Regions from separate parts of the Homo sapiens genome. Here region 1 is linked to region 2. The links come from fine-mapping of genetic effects on plasma protein levels. A gene starts in region 2. The other region holds a variant in brackets. All regions are shown on one strand. Distances are from middle to middle.

What was found. A credible set is the group of variants that fine-mapping cannot tell apart. PIP is the posterior inclusion probability: the model's chance that the variant is causal. The UK Biobank Pharma Proteomics Project read protein levels with antibody pairs (Olink). The fine-mapping took linkage between variants from a reference panel, not from the people measured, so its PIPs are less certain.
Region 1: its variant is the best candidate, but not a certain one, in a credible set for the plasma level of the UXS1 protein (UK Biobank, PIP 0.64).

The regions. Positions count from the first base shown.
Region 1 is chr2:106,226,146-106,235,889 of GRCh38, forward strand. No RefSeq gene overlaps it. Among named protein-coding and RNA genes, the nearest start is that of UXS1, 37 kb to the left of the region's middle. The variant C/T (reference allele first, on the strand shown) is at 4,724.
Region 2 is chr2:106,188,727-106,198,470 of GRCh38, forward strand. It overlaps UXS1 (UDP-glucuronate decarboxylase 1), which reads right to left and starts at 5,575. Exons shown (of 15, transcript NM_001253875.2): 1 at 5,422-5,575. The coding sequence starts at 5,515. RefSeq lists an enhancer at 4,668-4,717 and a silencer at 5,048-5,657.

The sequences.
Region 1 (9,744 bases), 37 kb after region 2:
TCAAAAAACAACAGATGCCAGCAAGACTGGAGAAAAGAGAATGCTTATATACTGTTGGTGGGAATGTAAATTAGCTCAGCCACTGTGGAAAGCAATTTGGAGATTTCTCAAATAACTTAAAACAGAACTAGCATTCAACCCAGAAATCCCATTATTAGGTATATATCCAAAAGAAAAATTGTTCTACCAAAAAGACACATGGACTCACATGTTCATCACAGCACTATTCACAATAGCAAAGACATAGAATCAACTTAGGTGCCCATCAATGGTGGATTTGATAAAGAATACATGGTACAGATATACCATGGAATACTATGCAGCCATAAAAAGGAACAAAATCCTATGCTCTGCAACAGCATGGATGCAGCTGCAGTCCATCATCCTAAGTGAATAAACCCAGGAACAGAAAATCAGATGCCACATGTTCTCACTTGTAAGTGGGAGCTAAACACTGGGTACTCATGGACATAAAGATGGCAACAATAGACACTGGGGACTAGTAAAGGGGGGAGGATGGGAGGTGGCAAGGGTTGAAAAACTATTGGGTACTATGCTTGACACCTGAGTGACAGGATCATTCATACCCCAAACCTGAGCATCACACAATATACCCAGGTAGCAAACCTGCACAAATATCCCCTGAATCAAAACTAAAAGTTGCAAAAAAAAAGAAAAGAAAAAAGAGTTATTTGTATATTTCGGATAACAGTCCTTTATCATATATATCTTTGTAAATATTTTCTCTCAGCCTGTGGCTTGTCTTCTCATTCTCTTAATAATGTCTTTCACAGAACACGAATTGTTATTTTTAGCGAAGTCCCACTATTGATTTTTCTTTTACGGATATTGCTTTTGGTTTCATATCTAAAAAGTCACAGCCAAACCCATGATTACCTAGATTTTCTTCTATGTTATATTTTTAAAGTTTTATGGTTTTTCATTTTACGTGAAGTCAATGATTCATTTTGAGTTAATTTTTGTAAAAGGTTTAAGGTCTATGTCTAGATTTTTATTACTATATATATATATATATATATTTTTTTTTTTTTTTTTTTTTGAGACAGAGTCCCACTCTGTCACCCAGGCTGGAGTGCAATGGTGCAATCTTGGCTCACTGCAACCTCCGCCGTCTGGATTCGAGCAATTCTCCTGCCTCAGCCTCCCTAGTAGCTGGGATTACAGGTGTCCACCACTATGCCCAGCTAATTTTTTATAGTTTTAGTAAAGACAGGGTTTCACCATGTTGGCCAGGATGGTCTGGAACTCCTGACCTCATGATCCACCTGCCTCGGCCTCCCAAAGTGCTGGAATTACAGGCATGAGGATTTTTATTATTCTTTGAGATGGGGTCTTGCTCTGCCACCCAAGCTGTAGTGCAGTGATGCAATCATGGCTTATTGCAGCCTCGGCCTCCCAGGTTCAAGCCATCCTCCCACTTCAGCTTCCCAAGTAGCTGAGACTACAGGCACTTGCGGCCACACCCAGCCAATTTTTTAATTTTTTGTAGAGAGGGGGGTCTCTCTATGTTGTACAGGCTGGTCTTGACCTCCTGAGTTCAAGTGATTCTCCCATCTCCGCCTCCCAAAGCATTGGGATTACAGGTGTGAGCCACCATGCCTGGCTAGATTTTTTTAAATGTAGGTGTCCAATCATTCCAGCATCATTTGTTTCTGTATTAAATTGTCTTTGCTCCTTTGCAAATATCAGTTGACTATACCTGTGGGCATCTGTTTTTAGGCTTTCAATTCTATTCGATTGGCCTATTCATCTAATCTTCTGCTAATACCACATTGTCCTGATTGTTCTAGCGTTATGTTCTCACTTATAAGTGAGTAAGTCTTGAAATCAGATGGTGTCAGTACTCTGACTTCATTCTCCTTTAATACCGTGTTGGCTATTCTGGGTATTTTGCCTCTTTATATAAACTTTAGAATCAATTTGTTAATATCCACAAAACAACTTGCTGAGATTTTTATTAGGATTGCATTTGATCTACAGATTAAGTTGGGAATAACTGACATCCTAACGATATTGGATCTACCTATTTATGAACATGGAATACTTCTCTATTCAAATCTTTTTTTTTTTTATCAGTTTTGTAGTTTTCCCCATATATATCTTGTATTTTTTCAAGATTTATTTTTAAGTACTTCTTTTTTGTGGAATTGTGTTTTACATTTTAAATTTTAATTGTTCATTGGTGTTATATAGAAAGCAATTGACTTTTGTATATATCTTTTGTATATAACCTTGTAATCTGCATCCTTACTGTAATCACTTAACAGTTCCAGAAGTACTTTTGTCAGTACTCTGGGATTTTCTACATAGACAATCATGTCATCTGTGAAGAAACAGGTTTTTTGTTCTTCTTAATCAATACACCTTTATTTCCTCTTTTTATCTTATTTTTCTAGCTAAAACTTCCAGTACAGTGCTGAATAGGAGTGGGGAGAGGGGATACATTTCCTTTGTTCTAATCTTAGGGTGAAAGCATCTGGTTTCTCATCAAGTATGATGATAGCTTTAGGGTTTTTTATTTTTTAGTTTTTTGAGACAGAGTTTTGCTCTGTCGCCCAGGCTGGAGTGCAGTGACACAATCTCAGCTCACTGCAACCTCTGCCTCCTGGGTTCAAGTGATTCTCCAGCCTCAGCCTCCCAAGTAGCTGGGATTACAGGCGCCTACCACCACTCCCAGCTAATTATTTGTAGTTTTAGTAGACACGGGGTTTTGCCATGTTGGCCAGGCTGGTCTCGAACTCCTGATCTCAAGTGATCTGCCTGCCTTGGCCTCCCGAAGTGCTGGAATTACAGGTGTGGGCCATTGCGCCAGGCCATCTTTAGGGTTTTTATAGTTGCTTTTTACCAAGTTGACCATGTTCCCCCCATTCCTGATTTGCTGACAGCTATCATAAATGGGTATTGGATTTTGTCAAATATCTTTTCTGCATCTATTGATATAATCATGACTTTCATTGTTATTCTGTTGATGTAATTAGTTAGATTAACTGATTTCCAAATGTTAACACAGGCTTGTATATCTGGAATAAGTCCCACTTGGTCATGGTGTATATATCTTTTTTCAAACTTTGTTAGGTTTGTTACTACCATTTTGTTGAGGATTTTTTCTTCTGTGTTCATGAAAGACATTAGTTTGTAGTTTTCTTTTTATGTAATGTGTTTATCTGTTTTTGGCATTAGGGTAATGTTGGCCTCATAGAATGAGTTAAGAGGTGTTTCTTCTGCTTCTATTTTCTGGAAGAGATTATAGAGAACTGGTACAATTTTTTACTTAAATGTTTGATAAAATGTAACAGTGACACCAGCTGCACCTGGTACTTTCTGTTCTAGAAGATTATTAATTAGTGATTCAATTTTTAAAATAAATGTAGACTTTTCAGATCATCCTTGGATGATTCTTTCAAGAAATTAGTCTATTTTACCTAGGTTATCCAATTTATAGGCATAGAGTTGTTCAAAATATTCCTTTATTATTCTTTAAAAGTCATTTAAACATTCATGAGGTCAGTAGTGATCACTCCTCTTTTATTCTGATATTAGTCATTTGTGTCTTTATTCTTTTTTCTTGATTAGCCTGACTAAAGATTTATCAATTTTATTAATATCTTTAATGAAAATGTTTCATACATTGTATGATTTCTATTTTATTCTATTCTTTTATATTTGTGGAAGTGTGTTTTATGGCCCAGAATATGGTCTACCTTGGGGAATATTTCATGTGAGCTGGAGGAGAATATGTAACCTGCTCTTGGATGAAGAAGTCTCTAGATGTCAATTAGATTCATTTAATTGATGGTGCTGCTCAGTTGAACTATATCCTTACTGATTTTATGCCTGCTGGATCTGTCCATTTCTGAGAGGGATGGGGAAGCCTCCACCTGTTATAACGGATTCATCTACTTCCCCTTGCAGTTATATTTTGATGCTTTGTTGTTACTCAAATACACATTAAAGACTGTTGTGTCTTCTAAGTGAAGTGATCACTTTATCATTATCTAAGGTCCCTCTTTAAATAGTTTTTCTTTTTCTGAAATCTTTTTGTCCAAAATTAATGTATCTGCTCCAGCTTTCTTTTTATTTGTATTAGCATGGTATATTTTTGCTTTTACTTTTTAAATAATAAAGCATGTGACCTTATTTTATTAGGAAAATTTACAAATGTAAAGTTGACCGAAAAGCATGAGGAGCACACATGTACCCGTCACCCAGCTTTAACAATTATGAACTGTGACCAATCATTTCCTCTGACTATTCCCACCCACTTTCTTCCCTCTCCTATTATTTTGAAGCTAATCTCATATATATCATTTCATTTGTAAATACTTTTGTATCTTTAAATAAGGATTCTCAATAACCATGACAACTAAAAATATCAATAATAATTCTTTAATATTATAAACTATTTTCACCAGGATCAAATTTTTAATTGTTTCATTAATATCATAATTTTTATATTTTATTTTTCTATTTTTACTGTGGTAAAATATATATAACCTATTATCTTTTTATTTTTTTATTTTTTTTTTATTTTTTGAGATGGAGTCTCACTCTGTCACCCAGGCTGGAGTGCAATGGCACAATCTCTGTTCACTGCAACCTCTGCTTCCCAGGTTCTAGAGAGTCTCCTGCCTCCGCCTCCCGAGTAGTTGGGATTACAGGCATCCACCACCACGCCAGTTAATTTTTGTATTTTTAGTAGAGA[C/T]GGGGTTTCACCATGTTGGCCAGGCTGATGTCAAACTCCTGACCTCAAATGATGGGCCTGCCTTGGCCTCCCAAAGTGCTGGCATTACAGGCATGAGCCACCACACCCAGGCAATTGTTTATTTTAACCATTTGTAATTGAATAGCATTAAACACAATCACAATATGGTATAACTATCGCCATTGTCTATACTTGAAACTTTTTCATAGTCCCTAAACTTTGTGCCCATTAGCTAATAATCCCCTCCTCTTCCCTCTTCCCAGCCCCTAACATCTAGTTTACTCTCTGTGTCTAAATTTGCCCACTTAAAATACCTCATCTAAGAAGAATCATACAAGATTTGTCCTGTGTCTGGTTTATTTTACAAAGCATAATGTTTTCAAAAGTTCATTCAGTATATAGCATATGTCAAACTTCAATTCCTCTTTATGGCTGAATAGTGTAACTGCATGTATATACCACATTTTGCTCAAACATTCATCTGTCGATGGATACTTTGATTGTTTCCAACTTCTGGCTATTGTAAACAATGTTTCTATCAACATTAGTGTACAGATACCTTTTTTTTCCTTTTTTTTTTTGTTTTTTTTGAGACAGAGTCTACCTCTGTCACGCAGGCTGGAGTGCAGTAGTGCAATCTTGGCTTACTGCAACCCCCACCTCCCCAGTCCAAGTGACTCTCCTGCTTCAGCCTCCTGAGTAGCTGGGACTACAGCTACTGCACCACCATGCCCAGCTAATTTTTATATTTTAGTAGAGAAGGTGTTTTGCCATGTTGGCCAGGCTGGTCCCAAATTCCTGGCCTCAAGCGATATGCCTGCCTTGGCCTCCCAAAGTGCTGGGATTACAGGTGTGAGCCACCACACCCAGCCAGTGCACAGATATCTACTCTCAGACCTGTTTTTAGTTCTTTTGGATATCTACCTAGAGTGGAATATGGTAGTTCTATATCTATCTATTTGATAAACCAACAAATATTTTCACAGCAGCTTCACCATTTTACATTCCCACCAGCAATAGATGACAGTTCCAATTTCTCCACATCCTTTCCAAAACACAAATTTTCTTTATTTTTTAAATTATATCTATCTTCGTGCAGGTGAAGTGGCATCTCACAGAGCATTAGAGTTGCATTTCCCTAATGACTGATGATGTTAAGCATCTTTTCCTGTGTGTCCTCCCTGCTGGAACACAAATTTTTTTTTTTTTTTTTTTTTTTGAGACTGAGTTTCTCTCTTGTTGCCCAGGTTGGAGTGCAATGGCTCCATCTCAGCTCACTGCAACCTCTGCCTCCTGGGTTCAAGTGATTCTCCTGCCTCAGCCTGCCAAGTAGCTGGGATTACAGGCATGCGCTACCACGCCTAGCTAATTTTGTATTTTTAATTAGAGATGGGGTTTCTCCATGTTGGTCAGGCTGGCCTTGAACTCCCGACCTCAGGTGATCCACCCACCTAGGCCCCCCAAAGTGCTGGGATTACAGGCATGAGCCACCGTGCCCAGCCTTAGAACACAAAATTTTAACAGCTATCTGTACACAGAAAAGCACAATCACAAGAACCAAATATCAGGTGAGCAATCATGGAAAGAGGCATCGAGGAAGGCAGGAGAGTTATTCTCGACTCGCTGACACCACCCCACCCCACCCCTAGCAGCAGCTGTGCAGAGGCAGAGTGAGAGAGAGAATCTGTGCACATTGGGGAGGGAGAGCACAGCAACTGGAGGACTTTACATTGAACTCAGTGCCCTCCTGTCATGGTGGAAAATAAAGCCTTGCCAGGCTCAGCCAGTGCCTGTGCACAGAGGGAGCATGTGGACCAGCCATAGCCAGAGAGGAGTCATCCATCCCAGCAGTTAGAGCTTGCGTTTGTCAGCAAGCCTTGCCACCATGTGCTGGCTTGAAAGGCAGACTAGGACACAAGGACTACAATCCCTAGGCAACTCCTAGTGCTAGGCTGGGCTTAGAGCCAGTGAACTAGGGTGGCATGTGGCCTAGAGAGACACCAGCTGACATGGCTAAGGGAGGACCTGCACCATCCCTCCCCCAACCCTAGGCAGTGCAGCTTATAGCAATAAAAGTGACCCTTTCCTTCTGCTTAAAGAAAGGGGAGCAAAAAGTAAAGAGGACTTTGTCTTGCATCCTGAATACCAGCTCAGCCACAGTAGGATAGGGCACCAGGCACAATTGTGAGGACCCCTTTCCAGGTCCTAGCTCCCAGATAACATTTGTAGACACACCCTGGGCCAAAAGGAAACCTACTTCCTTGAAGGGAAGAACCTATTCCTGGCAGGATTCATCACTTGCTGAATAAAGAGCCCTTGGGCCCTGAATAACCATTAGTGATACAGGGAAGTACACTGTGCATCTTGGGCTCTGAGTTGCACTAGCTTCAGGGGAGAGCCAGCATTTTCCAAGCTGTGGTGGCTATGGTGAAAGACTCCTTCAGTTTGAGAAAAACAGAGGGAAAAGTAAAGGGGAGTTTGTCTTGCACCCTAGGTACCAGCTTGGCCATACTGGAGTAGAGCAACAAGCAGGCTCTTGGGATCCCTAAGTCCAGGCCTAAGTTCTTGTACAGCATTGCTAGAGTGGGCCTGGGACAGAGGGGAGCACACCGACCTGATGGGTGAGTCCCAGGTCTGGCAGCATGCATCGTGTGCTGATGGAAGAGCCTTGGGCTTTAAGCAAACATTGATGATTTGCTTAACCAGTGGTGGTGGTGGCTACAGGGAGGGGCTTCTCTGCCTATGAAATGAGGAGACTAAAGTGGGAAGGACTTTGTATTGTGGCTTGAATGCCAGCTTAACCTCAGTAGAATAGAACATCAGGTAAATTGCTAAGATTTTTTACTCCAATCCCTGGCTCCCAGATAGCATCTCTGGACATGCCCAGGGTTTGGGGGAACTTGCCACCCTGAAGGGAAGGGTCTTAGGCAAGGTCCAGTGCTGCAATGGCTTCATGTCTGACCCGGTGCAGTCTCAGTAGTGGTGATCACAGGAGTGCTTGCATCACCACACCTTCAGTTCTAGGTGGCTCAGCACAGAGAGACTCTGCATGTTTGGGACAAAAAAAAGGAAAAAGAATGAGTCTCTGCCTGATAATCCAGATAATTCTGGATCTCATCCAAGACCACCAACGCAATACTTCTATTCTACTAGTCTACAAAAACAACAGCATCATAGGGCTGGAGGCCCAAGGCCCTTCAAATAGCTAGAAAGCCTTCCCAAGAAGGATAGGCACAAACAAGCCCAGACTGTGAAGACTACAATAAATACCCAACTCTTCAATGCCCAGACAGCAAAGAACATCTACAAGCCTCAACACCATCCAGAAACATGACCCTACTAAATGAACTACATAAGGCACCAGGGACCAATCTGGAGAAATAGAGATATATGACCTTTGAGATAGAGAATTCAAAACAGCCATTTTGAGAAAACTAAAACAAATTCAAGATAACAAAGAGAAAGAATTCAGAATTCTATGATATAAATTTAACAAAGAGATTCAAATAATTTAAAATAAGCATAAACTCTAGAGTAGAAAAATATAATTGGCATTCTAAAGGATGCATCAGAGTTTCTTAAAAGCAGAATTGATGAATCAGAAGATAGAATTAGTGAGCTTGAAGACAGGAAGACAGGCTATTTGAAAATACACAGTCAGAGGAGACACAAGAAAAAAGTAAAAAAACACAATGAAGCACATCTATAAGATCTAGAAAAGAGCCTCAAAAGGACAAATCTAAGAGTTGTTGGCCTTAAAGAGGAGGCAGAGATAAAGATAAGGTTAGTTTATTCAAAAGGATAATATCAGAGAACTTCCCAAACCTAGAGAAATATCTCAATATTCAAGTACAATAAGGTTATAGAACACCAAGCTGATGTAACCCAAAGAAGACTACCTCAAGACATTTAATAATCAAACTCCCAAAGGTCAAAGATAAAGAATCCTAAAAACAGCAAGAGAAGGCCGGGTGCAGTGGCTCATGCCTGTAATCCCAGCACTTTGGCAGGCAAAGGCGGGTGGATCACGAGGTCAGGAGATCGAGATCATCCTGGCTAACACGGTGAAACCCTGTCTCTACTAAAAATACAAAAAATTAGCCAGGCATGGTGGTGGGTAGCTGTAGTCCCAGCTACTCGGGTATCAGGGGAACCCACCCCCAATATTTCAATGTAGGTTCTTTCTATTTTCCATAAGTGTTGGCTGGCTAAGAAATAAAGAGAAAGAATACAAAGAGAGGAATTTTACAGCTGGGCCTCTGGGGGTGACATTACATATTGGTAGGACCATGATACCCTCCTGAGCCGCAAAACCAGAGGGTTTTTATTAAGGGTTTCAAAAGGGGAGGGGGTGCAAGAACAGGGAGCAAGTCGCAAGATCACATGCTTCAAAGGGCAAAAAGGAGAACAAAGATCACATCCTTCTGAGGAAACAGGACAAGGGCAAAATCAGAAACTCCTGATAACAGTCCAACAAAGATCACAAGGCAAAGGGCAAAAAAAAAAAGATCACAAGGCAAAGGGCAAAAGCAGAATTACCGATAAGGGTCTATGTTCAGCGGTGCACATATTGTCTTGATAACCATCTTAAACAACAGAAAACAGGATTCGAGAGCAGAGAGCCAGTCTGACCTCAAATTTACTAGGGCAGGGTTTTTCCCCACCCTAGTAAGCCTGAGGGTACTGCAGGAGACCAGAGTGTATTTCAGTCCTTATCTCAACCACATAAGACAGACACTCCCAGAGCAGCCGTTTATAGACCTCCCCCCAGGAATATATTCCTTCCCCAGGGTATTAATTATTAATATTCCTTGCTAGGAAAAGAATTTAGTGATATCTTCCCTACTTGGACATCTGTTTATAGGCTCTCTGCAAGAAGAAAAATATGGCTCTATTTTGCTTGACCCCACAGGCACTCAGACCTTATGGTTGTCTTCCCTTCTTCCCTGAAAATAGCTGTTATTCTGTTCTTTTTCAAGGTGCACTGATTTCATATTGTTCAAACACACATGTTTTACAAT
Region 2 (9,744 bases):
CTCACAGAAGGCAGTGCCCATCCCTACAGAGTCCCCCACTCTTAAACATGGGCAGGCCATCTGAGGAGAGCCTCACACAGAAACGGGAAGGCAGCCTAGAGGAAAGAGATCCTTCAGTAAAGAGAAAAGAAAACAAATTTTTTAAAAATCCAGAGAATATACCATGAAATGAAGACCATGTTTTAGTTTTTTAAAAAAGTTCACAGAACAAAAAAGAACTCTTATACATGAAAAAGTATGGCAAAAATAAAATGTAAAAAAATCACTAGAAGAGTCTAAATACAAAAATGAGGAGACGTCCCAAAAGTGCAACAACCTTAAAATGGTAGAAAATAGGAAATAAGAGGATTGGTCCAGCAATCCTATATCAGAATAGTAGTAGTCCCAGAAAGAGATGAAATAGAAAATGGGAGGGGAGAAAATCACCAAAGAATAATTCAAGAAAATTCCCATAACTGAAGAATAAGTGTTTCTGGATTGCCAGGGCACAAAAAATGCCCAACATGCTGGATAAAATACACCAAGGCCTAGCACTGTGGATCTTGGAACACCACGGATGTATCAGTCAGGGCAGGCATTGTTAAACTACAGCAATGAGCAGCCCAAAAGCCCTCAGAGGCCTACAACAACCAAGATTTATTCTTCAAGTTTATTTCAATCGAACAGGGTCATAGCATGGGTGGGAGGGGGTTCTGCAAGCTGAGTATCATCATTGTCAAGCTGAGTTCAGAACCTAACTAGAGGGAAGGAAAACTCTGGCAGCAACTTACACTCGCAGCGAAGTGCAGGCCCAGAAGTGGAAGTAGCACTTCCGCTCAGCTCCTGGGCAGGCCACTGGCACAACAACCATGTGAGGCCATCAAGCTCAGGGAGTGAGGAAGGGAGGGCAATCCTACCAAGAGCCTGGGGGACAGGGGGCTGGACATGTGTGGCGAGCACTGACAACTAGACCCGAAAGGAAGATGCTACAATCTTCAGAAAGAGAAGGACTGGCTTGAAATTCTTCAACAATACTGGAGGCCAAAAAGGATTGGACCAATGCTTCAAAAATTCTAAAGGAACTTTTTTTCTATAATTCTACACTATCAATCTATCAGACATGAAGGCAGAAAATATACTTATGGGTAAAGTCTCAGAATTCACTTCCCATCACATCCAAACCAGGGAGTGAAACAAGAGGGAGTCAGGAAGAGGAAGTCAGGAAACAGAAGTCCTGCAGTGGGTAGGTCCAGGCTGATGTGGGTGCAGGTGGTGAGGCTGGCAGCTGACCCTCAGATGTATCCACAAGTTGCAGTAGAAGGCCCCGGGGCCCTTCTTCAGGAAGGGGTGCTGACCAAGGGGCATCCTGATGCTCATGAACATCATGGGGGAAGACGCGACAGACAACTGGCAAAGAGTTTGGAGTTGGATCTGTCATACTACATAGAAAGCAAGCAAATTAGAACACCAGCCAATTATTCGCTGGAGAAAACAAAAAGTAACCTACAACATGACTCACTAGGAACAGCATTTACATAGTCATGCTTGTAAACACTGCATGATGAGCTCCGTGAGATTATACCACATCTATATAGGAGGGTGGAGAGCATGTACAGGGGCAAAGAGAAGAAAAAAATCATCTCCCAAAGAACAAAGTCACTAGGTAATATCTACAACTGAAAAATCAGGAAGCCAGGTGATTCAATGGCACAATGATAAATACCAAAATAATCAACTAAAAGAAGTGAAATGCCTAGGGGTTGGGTGCGGTGGCTCACGCCTGCAATCCTAGCACTTTGGGAGGCTGAGGTAGGCAGATCACCTGAGGTCAGGAGTTTGAGACCAGCCTGACCAACATGGAGAAACCGTCTCTACTAAAAATACAAAATTAGCCGGGCGTGGTGGCGCATGCCTGTAATCCCAGCTACTCAGGAGGCTGAGGCAGGAGAATCGCTTGAACCCAAGAGGCCAAGGTTGCAGTGAGCCGAAATCACGCCACTGCACTCCAGCCTGGGCAACAAAAGCGAAACTCTGTATCAAAAAAAAAAAAAAAAGAAATGAAGTGCCTGCTTCTGGGGAGAGGGAAATGGTGGCAGGGGATACTGTTTGGCCCTGCAGAAGCTATTTAACTTTTTACACTATATGCATGTTAAAAAAAAATACGTTAAAGGTAATTCAAGCAGTCTGCCCAGGAGCTACCTAGTAGGTTGGCCTGATTTTTGATTCAGCACAAAGGGCAGAAACTGAGTTCTTTCAATGAGCCATTAGCACTGCTATAAATGTTTCAAGGGCTGAAACACATAAGACACAATCCCTGTCCTCAGAATCGGGATTTCATTGAGAAAAAAAAGCCAACATATGAATGGGAAAGAACTCAAGTACAATGCAAGTTAGCAGGTGGTCAACCCTAAGACATGAAGAAGAGTTATGTGGTATCAAGGAGGAGACTCAGGGCCAGAGTAGGTAACAAAGACTTTGGGAAAGATGTAAGGAGGAGAAGGAGAAAGGCTAACAGAACTTGAGTTCTGTTCCCGAAACAGGGAGGGCATTTCTGCAACGGAGGCTGGCTAACAGTGAGGGTGTATATAATTGGGAAGTATGGACAGTTTTTTCAAACAGTGGTGAGATTTTACTTGTAACAGGGAGGGCAAGATTACTAATTAGGAAAAGCAGAGATTAGAAAACACAGACATCACGGTTGAGGGACTACATTTTCAGTGTCCTTCGGTGTTATCAATCACAAGCCCTGTAACATTTTTCCCTGCAGAGTGGCTCAGACTTAGCATACCTGCTCCTTATTAACACTGCCTCCACCCTGTGTTAAACCCCTCATAGCTAAAATCAACCATGTCGTGGGCTGCACCCCAGGCCTGCCTGCCTGCTTGCCTGCTCTGGCCCCTGTCTGCCTGGGCAGCCTCATGGCTGTAATTTTGTTTTCACACTCCAACAATACCATCCTTCTTTGCATTCCTAGAATACTGCCTGCTCTTGGCTGCCGCAGGACCTCTGCACACACTGCTCCTCCTAGAACACGCTCTCTCCTATGACTTCCCTGTTAACTCCTACATAAGCCGTCCATTCTCAGCTCACTTTTGATTCCTCAACAAAACAAACGTACCTGATTGCTCTCACTCAGGAGTTCCTGGCATAGTTCTCATGCATTCCTTTTCCTCACACCAGTTTGTAATTTAACCTTCATTTCCAATTCATGCCCACCTCACCATCTTGGCCAGTGGGTCTCAAAGTGGTGTCAGGTCACAGCAACAGCATACAGAACAACCTATTAGTGATGCAGATTCTCAGGCCACATCCCAGACCAACTGAATCAGAAACTTGAGGTGGGAGACAAGCAGTCTGTGTTTTTTAAAAAAAACCCTACTGATTCTGATGCATGCTTAAGTCTGAGAATCAACGTGCTACACTATGTGGTATAGGGTCTGTACCATCACAGCACAGACCAGTTAAGTTTTAGCACCCCATGGTGTCTCCTAGTGCCAAATTCAGGGACAACAGTAAGGACTTGGTAAGATTTCCTGGTCAGATGAATGATTGGTTAAAAAACTTTCCTGCTGGGAGCGGTGGCTTACGCCTGTAATCCCAGCACTTTGGGAGGCCGAGGCAGGCGGATCACGAGGTCAGGAGATCGAGACCATCCTGGCTAACATGGTGAAACCCCGTCTCTACTAAAAATACAAAAAATTAGCCGGGCGTGGTGGCGGGTGCCTGTAGTCCCAGTTACTTGGGAGGCTGAGGCAGGAGAATGGCGTGAACCCGGGAGGTGGAGCGTGCAGTGAGCCGAGATCGCGCCCCTGCACTCCAGCCTGGGCTGAACAGAGCGAGACTCCGTCTCAAAAAAAAAAAAAAAACTTCCCATGGCTCCATAAATCCCCTACTTTATTAATTCTAAACCCTTGCAGCGACTATAGAATACCCCCAAAATAAACATTGAAACTGCTGTTCGAAGACCTGGGTTCTAGCTCCTGCTCCCAGGCCTTTCTGGGTTCAAATTTTGGCCCTCCTTCTCTTACTATCTGTGTGATCATCCATAAATTTCCTAATCTCTCTTGGCCTTAACTTCCTCACCTCTAAAATAGGAATCATTATAGTACCGATTTCCCAGGGTTGCTCAATGATTGAGACAATGGCACTAAGAATCATGACTCACACAGTTAAGCACTCAACAAATGTAGGTAGTATTACTGCCATAATAATAGTTATTCAACTTTAAATGGTCTTTCCTCTTGGGTCTCAGCTTTCTTACTCAAGATTGACCACACACACACTTTAGACTAGTTCTTCCTCCCTTGCAAAACTACACACATCTAACACCCATCCGACGCCTGAAACCTCCCCTAGCAACCCGGAGTCCTGCTGGGGTTTTCCAGCTCCACCTCCTGAACAGCTGGGCTGTAGCACACAGGCTGGATCTACTCATACTTGCCTTCCTAGAGCTCAACTGAAGTCACTTCAGACAAGTGAAGTACCCACTCACCTCTGGAATCAGATCTTGGTAACGCCAACAGGTTAGCAGGTGATTTCATTTCAGTGTGTGTCTGGGTGGCTAGCATTCAAACGCAGCTCACACTGGGAGCTATTTCTAGTCCAATTTTGCTACTTGGTAACGTATTAATAGCATCAATTAAAACATTCCCAACGAATAGATCTTTAAAAGGACGGTTTCTGACTTCCCTAACAAGCAGAGGGCCGACCACCTGCCTGCGAAGTGCCCCTCCTGCCCTGTCTCCAGGCAGCATGCTGTGAGCGATGACAGAAACTGGACCCGCGCACAGAGAAGCTGCAGGCACGCCCTGCCCGGCCACCCAGCTGCCTGCCTGCTTCGCCCGGCCGCCGAGCCCCGGGGGAAAACCTAGAATGGGGATGCCGGTGCGCCCCGACACCTGGGCACGGCCGCGGGCCGGGGAGCCGCCCACACTTGGCTCCCCAAGAGTTAAACGCTGAGTAATTTTCCTGAGGAGCAAACAGTCGGAGCGGGGGCTCTGCCAATGGCCACAGTATTTTTATCCGACTTAACCGACACCGCGGCGCGACCTCGGCTGTCCCCAAGGGTATCCCCACGCGGCACGCTCCGGAGTCCCCGACCGGGACCCTCGCCGGCTCCCAGCGCGACATGGACGACAGCGCCGCCGCCGAGTCCCCCGCGCCCGGGCAGGAGGCAGAGACCTGGGGCCGCCCGAGGACTGCTAGGGGCCCCTCCGCCCGGGGTCCGCGCCCGGGCCTAAGCGGTAGGGGGTGTGCGCCCAAGTTGGCCCGCTTTGCTGCAAGAGTGGAAAGGGGTGGGAGCAGAAAGCGCCGGCCCCGCCCGGGGCGGGGAGCAACGCGGGGCTGCAGGGCCGCCTCGGGGCCCCGAACCACCGCCGCCCGGCCCACCGCGGCGCCGGGGAATGAATGGGGCTCCCCAGCTGGCAGCGGGCGCGCACTCACAGGCGACGTAGGCCAGCAAGGCGATGCCCAGCAGCAGCTTCATCCTCCTGCGGTTGACGGCAGACACGAGGCGCAGCAGCGCCTTGCTCACCATCCCCGGGAGCCGCGCGGGTCCAGGGCCCTACCGCGCGGGGGCCCGCCTGCTGCACAATGCGCGGCGGCGGCGGCGGCAGCGGCCCCGAGAGCCCCGCCTCCTGCCGCCGCGCGCCCCCGCCCCCGCGCGCCTGCTTCCTGCTGGCGGGATCACCGCGCAGGCGCGCCTCCACCCCCTTCCTCCGGCTCCGCCCCCGCCCCTCCGGCTTCTCTACCCGCAGGCGCAGTTGCCGCCTTTCTTGCCTTGGTTTTCGAAGAATGTGACCTGGAGGGCTGGTGGGCGGTGCGGCGCGCCGCGGCGCATGCGCGTTCCGGTCTGTTTTCCCTGAGTTAAAGCGCGCGGGTGCCAGCCGGGAGGTGCGGCTGGATTCGTTTCGCTGAGGTGCGTCCCCAACCCAAGGGCACGACTGCAGTGGCCAGTTTCCGAGCCCCGCCCGGAGGGGGGCACGCGGTGGGCATTCCGGTGTTGCAGTGAAACGAAACTTATTTGCTAAACTTGGCCGAGCCTTAGAAGTTGAATGCCTGCCTCAGAAAGTTGCCTCGTTCTCTGGGCTGTTTAGTTGGCTTTTTTTAGTTAGAATATCGGCAGCGAAAATGATAAATCCCCTAAACCTTGCCGAAGTAAAAACTGGCTGCGTTTTTTTTCCTTGGCTATGATCAACTGGGGTGCCTTTGTTTTAATAATAGTCTTTTATTATTATTTTAAAAAGCAGTGCTAAGTATATTAATTTAGGATAGACTTGGAAAAGAAAAGATGAAATTGCGCTGTCTCTGCCTAGAGAAAAACCCTGACCATGTTGTCGTGTGTGTTTCATTCAATCTTTTTGTTGAGTATATCTGTTTTATGAGTGCTGTACTGATTGCATAGGAGGTACCTGTGTTTAAAAAGCATTTACTGAATGATGATTACAAGCAAGGAGATGTATCAGAAGATCCACAGATAATCGGAAGCTTGTCATTGGATCTGGAGAGAGCTGGTCCCATGGAGGAAAAAAAGACAGGTACACACAGATGTGTGTGATGCCACATTAAGAGAGATCCCGGATTTGGGATCTGCAGGCTTCAAGAGGTCATCTTCAGCTATACGGAGAAGTTGAAGTCAGCAGCGGCTCTCCTACCTCTTGGAACCTCAGGCCATTTTGCAAAACTTAATAGATCACCCTCCTTTAGATTTATTAGAAACCTCCAAGAAAAGGAAATATGGCAGCTGGTACTAAAGCAGCAGCTTTATGTTACATCTTTCAAACTATAGTGCAAATGATGTGATTCTGATAAAACCTACCTCCATCCTACCCCTCCCCTAAACCTGTTGAGAATCCCTGACTAGGAGGAAACACTGAGCGGTTTGCTAAGGCGGATTGCCCCTGCTATGCATGCTGCCCATAGATGGAGTGGACTTCTTTCGAGAAGCCCAGCTCCCTGACTCTGACGTGTCCAAGGAGGCTGCCAAGTGACAAAACACCTGGCATGGGAGCCTGAGTCCTGGGTTCCCAGAGGGGCCAGGCCCCCAGAGCACACCAGTTTGGAACAAATCGATTTTGTTTGTAAGTCTGCATTTCCTCGTGGCTTTCTGGCTATGGTTTTTGAAAAGAGAACTAGAGCAAGTGGAGCTCTAGGCCTTTCCCATTCCATGACTCCGTGGTTTTTAGATTAAAGATGAGGAGCAGAAATGGAAGAAAATAATAGTTCATTAACATTTGACCTATGGGCAAAATCAGACTGAAGCTTCTAGGCGGATTTCAAGCATTTTAGGTTTTAGGTAGGGTTTAGTTGATAGGTATCCTATTAGACGACAAAGGTCAGAAATTGTGGGGTATTTGCCATTTCTGTACTAAACTCCTTAAGCCCAGCATTCCCAGTTAGCATTTTTTTCTGCTGCTGGACACTACTGCCAACTTCTGCCCTGTGGGATTAAGTATATGGAAATACCGTTAGCAGCTGCAGTTGAAATAGCTGCTGCTGTCATTATTGCCACCCAGAAGGCGGTTGGTGTCCCAGGACACTGGTGTCTTGCTCAGCCGCAGCCAGAATTAAAAAGTAAGCAATAGTAAGTGTGCACCCAGTGGAGGTAAGAAGGCCTGAGGGAGGGAGATGCCAAAGAGACCCTCCAAGCTCCTCCGGGGATCTTGGGCGTAGGCAGCACCATTTCCCTGTGCTCCTTGCCTCTCTTGTTTCTTCCCAGACCCCCTTGTTTCTTCCCAGCCCATCCCCACTTCCCCCGCAGGTTCTGGGCTCATCCCTCCCTGCTCCCTCCCCTTACTGTCAACCCCCTCATATTTCCAGTGGATAGGTTAACAACAATATTTTTGAGCGATTACATATTTTTGAACAAGTTACAAAGGTAGTGTTTTTGACACTCAGGGTAATTAAAAAATGAATTGTAATATGACTTCTAAAGTGTTTAAAGCCTAAGGAGTGGAGAAAATTAACATTTATAAACCTCTACAATGTGCCAGGGACTGTTATGCAATGCACTTTCATTGTTACCTCATTGATATGGTTTGGCTCTATGTCCCCACCCAAATTGTAATCCCCACATGTCAAGGGAAGGACCTGATGAGAGGTGATTGGATCATGGAGGTGGTTTTCCCTATGCTGTTCTCATGATGGTAAGGGAGTTCTCATGACAGCCAATGGCATTTTTTTTTTTGAGACGGGGTCTCACTCTGTTGCCCAGGCTGGAGTGCAATGGCACAATCTCAGCTTACTGCAACCTCTGCCTCCCGGGTTCAAGTGATCATCCTGCCTCAGCCTCCCAAGTAGCTGGGATTACAGGCGCCCGCCACCACGCCTGGCTAATTTTTGTATTTTTAGTAGAGATGGGGTTTCACCATGTTGGTCAGGCTGGTCTTGAACTCCTGACCTCAGGTAATCCACCCGCCTTGGCCTCCCAATGTGCTGGGATTACAGGTGTGAGCCACCACACCCGGCCGGTTTTAAAAGTGTTTGGAAGTTTCTCCTTCACGGCATTTCTCTCCTCTCCCCTGCCGCCATATGAGGAAGGTCCTTGCTTCCCCTTCACCCTCTGCCATGATTGTAAGTTTCCTGAGGCCTCCCCAGCCATGCGGAACTGTGAGTCCATTAAACCTCTTTCCTTTATAAATTAGCTAGTCTCCAGCAGTTCTTTATAGCAGTGTGAAAACTACTAACACACTCATTTAATTCTTGCAACAGCCCTGTGGGGCAGGGTTGCCATTGTTGCTGCTCTTTAAAAAAAAAAAAAAAAAAAAAAATTTTAAATTAATTTTTAAATCAACAAAAATTGTATATATTTATGATGTATCATATGAGGTTTTAATATATGTATAGATGGTGGAATAGCTAAAACTAGTTTGCTTCCACCTTTTGGGTATTGTGAATAATGCTGCTGTGAACACAGGTGTACAAATATCTCTTTAAGACCCCACTTTCAGTTCTTTTGGGTACATTACCCAGAAGTGGAATTTTTGGCTCATAAGGTAGTTGTGTGTTTAATTTTTTTGGGAACTTCTATACGGTCTTCCTTAAGGGCTGTACTGATTTACATTGCTGCTGTCATTAATAGATGAGGAAACTGAGGCTCTGAACATTTGATAAGTGTCCCAACACTTGGTAGGTGGCAGGGTTACCAGTTACTTGGCTTGGTAAGTAACAGGGTTACCAGTCACAGAGCTGGGAGTGTAGGGCTGGAATTTTAAGCCATGATTTTCCCTGTGTGAGGATGCTTTTCTGGAGTTGAGTGCAGACTTGCACAGAAATGACTATCACTCATAGCAAAATGTGGTGAGTGGTCACTGTGGGACAGGGTCGCATGAATGGCTAAGGAATTTCACAACAGGAAGGTATGCTTCCAGGTCATGGACTGTGGTTTGCCATGCCGGGACCAGCTGACAGGCTCACAAGAGCTGACAGTTAGCAACTGTTCCTCTGGGATTATTTGCACCATGGAAATAACGCAATTGCTACATACCAGGGATTCTTTTTTTTTTTTTTTCTTTTAACTAGCATACTTCTGCTTGCAGATGAGAACAGTGAGAGAGAGAAAGCTTTGCAGAGCAGGACCTACGTGAGCTGAATTTGAAAGGATGTAGTATAGGATTTGGACTCATACATCTTGGGCAGGGGCATCCCTAAGGAAATAGCAAAGGCAAGGATGCTGGGGAGTGAAAGGTTGCCATAGGAAATAGTGGGGATCTCTGGCAGGAGGAGCAGAGAACAAGAAACGAAGGTATATTGGCCAGGCGTGGTGGC